2 separate regions of the Homo sapiens genome follow, and region 2 is linked to region 1. The links come from fine-mapping of genetic effects on gene expression. A gene starts in region 1. The other region holds a variant in brackets. All regions are shown on one strand. Distances are between the middles of the regions. Region 1 holds the start of ZBTB38 (zinc finger and BTB domain containing 38). Region 2 overlaps ZBTB38 (zinc finger and BTB domain containing 38).

The links.
Region 2: its variant is fine-mapped to the expression of ZBTB38 in whole blood (TOPMed, PIP above 0.99).

What each region holds. Positions count from the first base shown.
Region 1 is chr3:141,367,369-141,370,276 of GRCh38, reverse strand. ZBTB38 (zinc finger and BTB domain containing 38) reads right to left here and starts at 1,773. Exons shown (of 6, transcript NM_001376113.1): 1 at 1,473-1,773; 2 at 331-405. RefSeq lists enhancers at 647-1,422, 1,877-2,106, 1,172-2,371, 2,199-2,908.
Region 2 is chr3:141,401,359-141,404,266 of GRCh38, reverse strand. ZBTB38 (zinc finger and BTB domain containing 38) reads right to left here. Exons shown (of 6, transcript NM_001376113.1): 5 at 236-340. Among named protein-coding and RNA genes, the nearest start is that of ZBTB38, 34 kb to the right of the region's middle. RefSeq lists silencers at 1,522-1,811, 1,892-2,201. The variant T/G (reference allele first, on the strand shown) is at 1,295.

The DNA of each region.
Region 1 (2,908 bases):
AGACACCCCTAGGCGACCTTGAAAACCACATGCTGCAGAAGGCAAAGCCCCTCTCTACCTGTGTCTCTGAATGAATGCATGAAAGACAGTTGCCCCACTGACCTGTACTGTTACATGAGCAAGAAATAAACTATTGTGTTTGAGCCATTATAGATTTGGGGTTCTATTATAACAATTAGCCTATCCTAATATCCTTTTTAATATAGCTGTAATCATTGTGTACAGAAATCTCTGTGCCCTTTCCCCTTTTCTTTGAATCTTACCACAAACTAAAAAAGGAGAATTGGGAGACTTAAATTTAAGTAGCTGTTGGGGACAAATGACACTTACCAAATTAGTGGTCACAACATTCAGATCTTAGAGCCAGAAGAACAGGACTACAGCAGAGCCTCACTTCAAGACAACCTAATATATTAAAGTAAAACAAAAAGTAAAACATAAGGCCTATAAAACAGATATTTTAGTGTGTGATAGTTAATTTCCAAAGGGAGTTGTCCATTTACAAAGGAATATGCCACTGTTTTCCAGTAAATGACAAGCTTCCTTACTGCCTTTAAAATGAGACTTACGCCTCCCCGCTCCCAGTCATTTTAACATAGAATTTCTGAAGAACAGATCTCCCCTGGTACGTCAGCTATACGAAGACTAGATGCTGACTCAGGGGATGACTTAGAAGCCGGGAAAATCAGGGTATGATTTCTATGCCTACGTGCTGTTCTCATGTATGTGTCAAAACTTTTCTCTTGGGAACTTAACTTTCTTGGGTAGGAACTTCCAGAGGTCGTGAAATTATAGGCTTTGTAAAGAACTATGAGTTTTTAGACAAAGTTAAAACAGACACATTGTGTCTTTGTGCTTAATATCATCCCAGATACGATGGCACAAGTAGGAATGAAAATAAGTCCTCTGTAAACAGGGCGATAAGATAATGGAGGTTCATACACAGAACAATCAGAAACGTGCTCAGTAAAGGCAGCACAATTATGTACATCTTTTTACCAGGGCTGTCATATTTTACCAGGTTAAGTGTGAAAATACCATTTGATGGCACAGGACACGTATTTGCCTAGAACAGGGTTTATTTTTATGTCTGATCGCTCAGTATAAGATCTAGGAAGCAAACAATCCAGAACTCTGAACAAACATTCTGACAGCCTGAAACGGAATACTCAGGTGAGGGGAGGAAGAGGAGGCAAAACAAGAGGGTTGACAGGGAAAGGCATCAGTTGGGCTGTTCTCCCCAGGGTTTCCGTCTTAGTATTGTTTTTTTTTTTTTTTTTTGCATTCTTTTCTGATCCTGTGGAGAGAGATATCAGATCCCTTTGGGGCCGTATTTAGAGGGTCTCCCAAATGCAGTCCCTACTCCCAACTCTGGGCTGGGGCTTGGCAAGCTGTAGGCGTCAGGGAACAAGATGGCGCCCTACGGTGAAGGGCGCTGAGTGAGGGGGGGCCAAAAGTGGGCCTTCACTTACTCGGAGGCGCTGGCTCCTCTGAAACCCAGACGCTGTCAACTCCCTGGGCCCAGGAGTCACAACCGCTTTCGTGCTCTGGGTTCTTCACTTCTTGTGATCAGCTCCACATATTTTTCTGATGATGTCACCCATTCTGACTTCCTACATTTTGAAAGTTGATCTACAAGTAAAATCTTTCGTGAGGCTTAAAAAAAAGAAGAAAAGAAATAAAAGGTGTGCTATAGGGAGATGGAGAGGAAGAGAAAGGCCGTTGCCTCTTTATTTTGAGATTTGCTGCAGCTGCGAGTGCCACTCCCCAACTAGTTTCCTGGCTTCAGAGGGAGGCCAGTGGCCGGGCGTGGGTGACGTCAGGGCCAGGCCTGAGTCATCGCCAGCAGCCCGGGCCGGGCTGCCCTGCCACTCGGAAGGGGACAAAAGGAACCTTTGATGTCCAGAGGCCCTCCTCTCAGCACACTCGCCGGCACAGACCAGCAGGCCAGGAGAACATTCCTGCCGTCTCCCCACCCCCAGCCGCCCTTCCTACTTCCGGAACAGCCCCAGACAGATTCAACAAGGCCTCCCCAAAGGACATCACCCTCCTGCATGGCAGAGGCATGGCCGTGCTCTGTCAGAGAAGCAGGGAAGAAGAAGAGGGTGTTTCCCTGGGGACCTCTCACTGCCCCTCTGCCATCCCCCTTCTTCTGTGTGGTGCCCACCTTACTCAAGGAGTTGCAGTGGTATTGAAAGAGATGCGGAAAGGTGGAAGGCACTTTTGTCACCATCCCCGGGCAGCTCCTGGTGGTCAGTGTCTATTCTCCTCTGCCTCTGTGCTGTGGCCCTGGGCTTCGCTCCCTACCCTGGGTGCCAACATGAACTAGCTCTTCCTGGATTTAAGACATGACCACTCTTTAAAGGGGATATTTATATCTCAGTGCCTGGCATGAGGCTTGGTAATTATATGATGAATTAAGGAATGATAATTGTAAAATAAAATAGTAGAGGACACATATTAAATACTTAGAGTGAACATTCAAGCCTCTGTGCTTTATGAAGATTATTTCATTTATTGGTATTATCACAACAAAAAAGCTGTGAGGTAGGTACTATTAATATTCCTAATGCTATAGAGAAAGAAATGGATGCTCAGAGAGGTTAAGACACTTCTCTAAAGCCTCACAGCTAGTTAGTTCATGGCAGAGCCTGGATCATCTAATCTCACATCCTGTTTTCTTAATCACGGTGCTGAGTGGCTGGAGTGAATGAAGGAATATTGACCAAGGGCAACCTGGCCAGGAGAAAAGAGACAAAGATGGGACTTGAAACCACATCCTACAAGGAAACAATGAAACAATTAGGAATGTTCTGGCAACATGGGCCTCATGCCTTCTTACTGCGTCAACACCAGGTCTGAGGTTTGGCAAGTGGGTGGCTTACTCAGCGTAGCCAGGAGGGCGAAT
Region 2 (2,908 bases), 34 kb before region 1:
CTGACAGAACTGGAACAAGAAACCAGCTGTCCTAAAGCCTTGATCTCCTAGTTCCCCTTCATCACGGGGGCTTCACACATCCGGTCTCCCAGTAACATATCACTTGAGTGTCATGGTCACTTTGTAACCCCAAAACTTGGTGGATTGCTGTCTTGAATCATATACCCTTTGGGAGTCCCTCAGAAAGACCATTTCCTATCTCATGTAGACTAAGGAGAGACGCGACTTTAGTTACCTCAGTTAGAACAGACCAGCTTTAACAGAGTGAGATTCCTGTGCTTTGGAAGAAATCACTTGGAAATCCTTGGTTCTGAGTCCTCCATTTCTTCCACATCAAGATCTAAAAAGAAAAAAAAAGTGCAGTGTCCCATGACTAGCTGCTAGGATTTCATCTTTTAGCAACAATAATAACTGCAATTAGCACATATTGAACACATAAGTCAAACACCCACAAAGTGGTTGACATATGTGGTTTCGTGTTGTCTTCATAACAACCTTCAGATGTAGGGAACATTCCCCCATTTTACAGCTATAGAAACGGAGACTCTAATGGACCACGGAACCTGTTCAAGGTCACACAGCTGGTGTATGTGACAATTAGGACTCAAATCCAGATTCAATTGATTCCAAGGCCTGGGCTATTAACCAGTAAGTCAGGGTTTTAAAAACATTTCAGACAGTGACCCACGGTTTTAAAAATTTACATTATATAAACCGAAAACCAAAAGTCTCATAAAACAATGCTTACCCTTACTATGTGCAATGCACGTTATTTTTTCTATTCTTCTCTGTATTGTACTATATATTCTATATCTTTAAGAAGATTTCCAGTAGCAACCCGCTAAACTGATCCCACAATCTTAGAATGGGTCCCCCACTCTTGAAAAACGCTACACTTAGATATAGCGACTCACTAGCTGCTTCTCTGAAACCAGGACAAAACTCTTCCACATTTTGTAACCATGAGAATCTGACCAAGTAGTTGAGCTTCACAGAAGAAAAGTCTTTAACCTTTAAAATATGTATAAGGCACCATAACACATATCACCTATAATCGATCCTTAGAAGGGATACTCAATTAGGGCCAACGTCCAGAATGGAATTAGGCACTTACCTACCGCAGTGCAGGAGTTATAAAGTGGAACCGCGGACAGACTAAAATCTCAGGTGATTTATGATGTACCCTATAAAAAAAGTGGCTAACGGCGGGCGGTTGTGTTGTATGTTGTACCAACAGAGCAGACCTTACTACTGCAGAAGTAGGCGGCTGAGACTGCAAACCCCTGGGGGCAGG[T/G]CCCTGCCTTTGCACGTCCCTTTCAATTCCAGGGGCTTGGTGTTGCATCAAGGAAATCATCAAGTTCCCATAGGGTCAGGACTAGGGTCCGATTCCCAATCCAGGAGACGGGAGGTGTGACTGTCAAAGCAGTGCCCGAGCCCGCTGGACTCGAGCCCACCACGTCCCCAGCCCCGGGAGCGCATTCCTCCTCGGCCCCCGCCCTCTAGCACAGCCGCGCAGTTGGGCCACGGGATGCGGCGCAACCTGCCCGCACTCTCCAGCCGAACCCACCCCGCCCCGCCCCGCTCCGGGCGCGGGCCCCGGAGTCCGGGCACCTGCGGGCGCTTCCTCCCCGCGGGCAGCTCGGTTCTGCTGCGTTTGCAGAGCTCAACCCTTGCGAGGGTTTCCCCAGCCCGGCTTCCCGGCTCCCTCCAGAAGCGAGGAGCGATCGGGCTGGCGGCGCCACGGGCGCCGCGCCCGCAGGCCGCGCCTCGCCCCGCCCCGCCCCCGGCCCCGCGAAGACCCTGCGAGGGGCACTTACGGGGCTCGGCTCCTTCGCCGCCGGCGCGTTTCCCCGGGGGTCCATGGTGCTTCCGGACCCGTGAGTCCGGCCGCAGCGCTGCACAGCACCGCCCAGAAAATGGACGCCGGCGGCTCGGCTCTGCCGGCCCGGCCCGCCCCCGGCGCGGGGCAGAGGACGCAGCCCGTCCGGGAGGAGGTCGGCCCGACCCGCAGCCCCGCGGGCCCGGGGCTGGGGTAACTGCGGCGCCAAGGACCAGGCCTCAGGAGGGCGGCGGCGGGACCCGTGAGGGCCCCGTAAGGCCCCATGCCCGACCCAGTGGCCAGCCGGGGCCCCCCACCAAGGAGGCAGCGGCCTCAGCCTCCTCAGGGAGGACACAATTCAGAACCTGCCGAAGGACAACGCAGTTAGGACTCTGGGCCACAGAGCCTGGTGACTGTCAGAACAAGGCCTCGGGCCGCAGAAGGGTCCGTGGGCTCCTGTTCGAGACTATGCACACTGGATTCGCAGAAAGTCGCTGTTTCAATTGCATCAAATTCTCAGGAATAAGGAGTCACCTGTGTTTTTTCCATGGCCGTCAAGAGAGGCCTAGATAGATTTTTCCCAACGTGGCACAGAAACTATTTCACGCAAAAGACCCAGTCCTCTTCTTTAAATGAAGGGCCCTGGCCGCTGGCATCTTTCTTCCAAGATCCAGGGGCTGCTCATTGAAAAAGTATTCAGAGAGGGCCTGCCACAAGCTGGCCATGTGGAGCTAATGCACGAATAATGGACAGGTGTTTTTTTTTTTAAATCGTCCATGTTCCCTGTGTTTTGACAGTAGAGTCTTATTCTTAAATTTTCTTAAAAAAAAAAAAAATTCAAGGCCACAGCTTAAAAGGATTAAAAAGTCAATTCTTTACGTTTTCAGCCAGGAATCTACAGTACTTGCAATTCTGCATCCCAGTTCCTGACCATGTTTTAAGAATGTGATCACTTGATGAATAGATTCCAATATTAAATATAAAGCCAACAAAACATTTTAAATAATGAGGGAAAAATATATTGACTCCAGGTCAAATTAAATAATCATGTTATTTAAAAATAAAAGGAAGAGTTTTGAAGGCCGACAG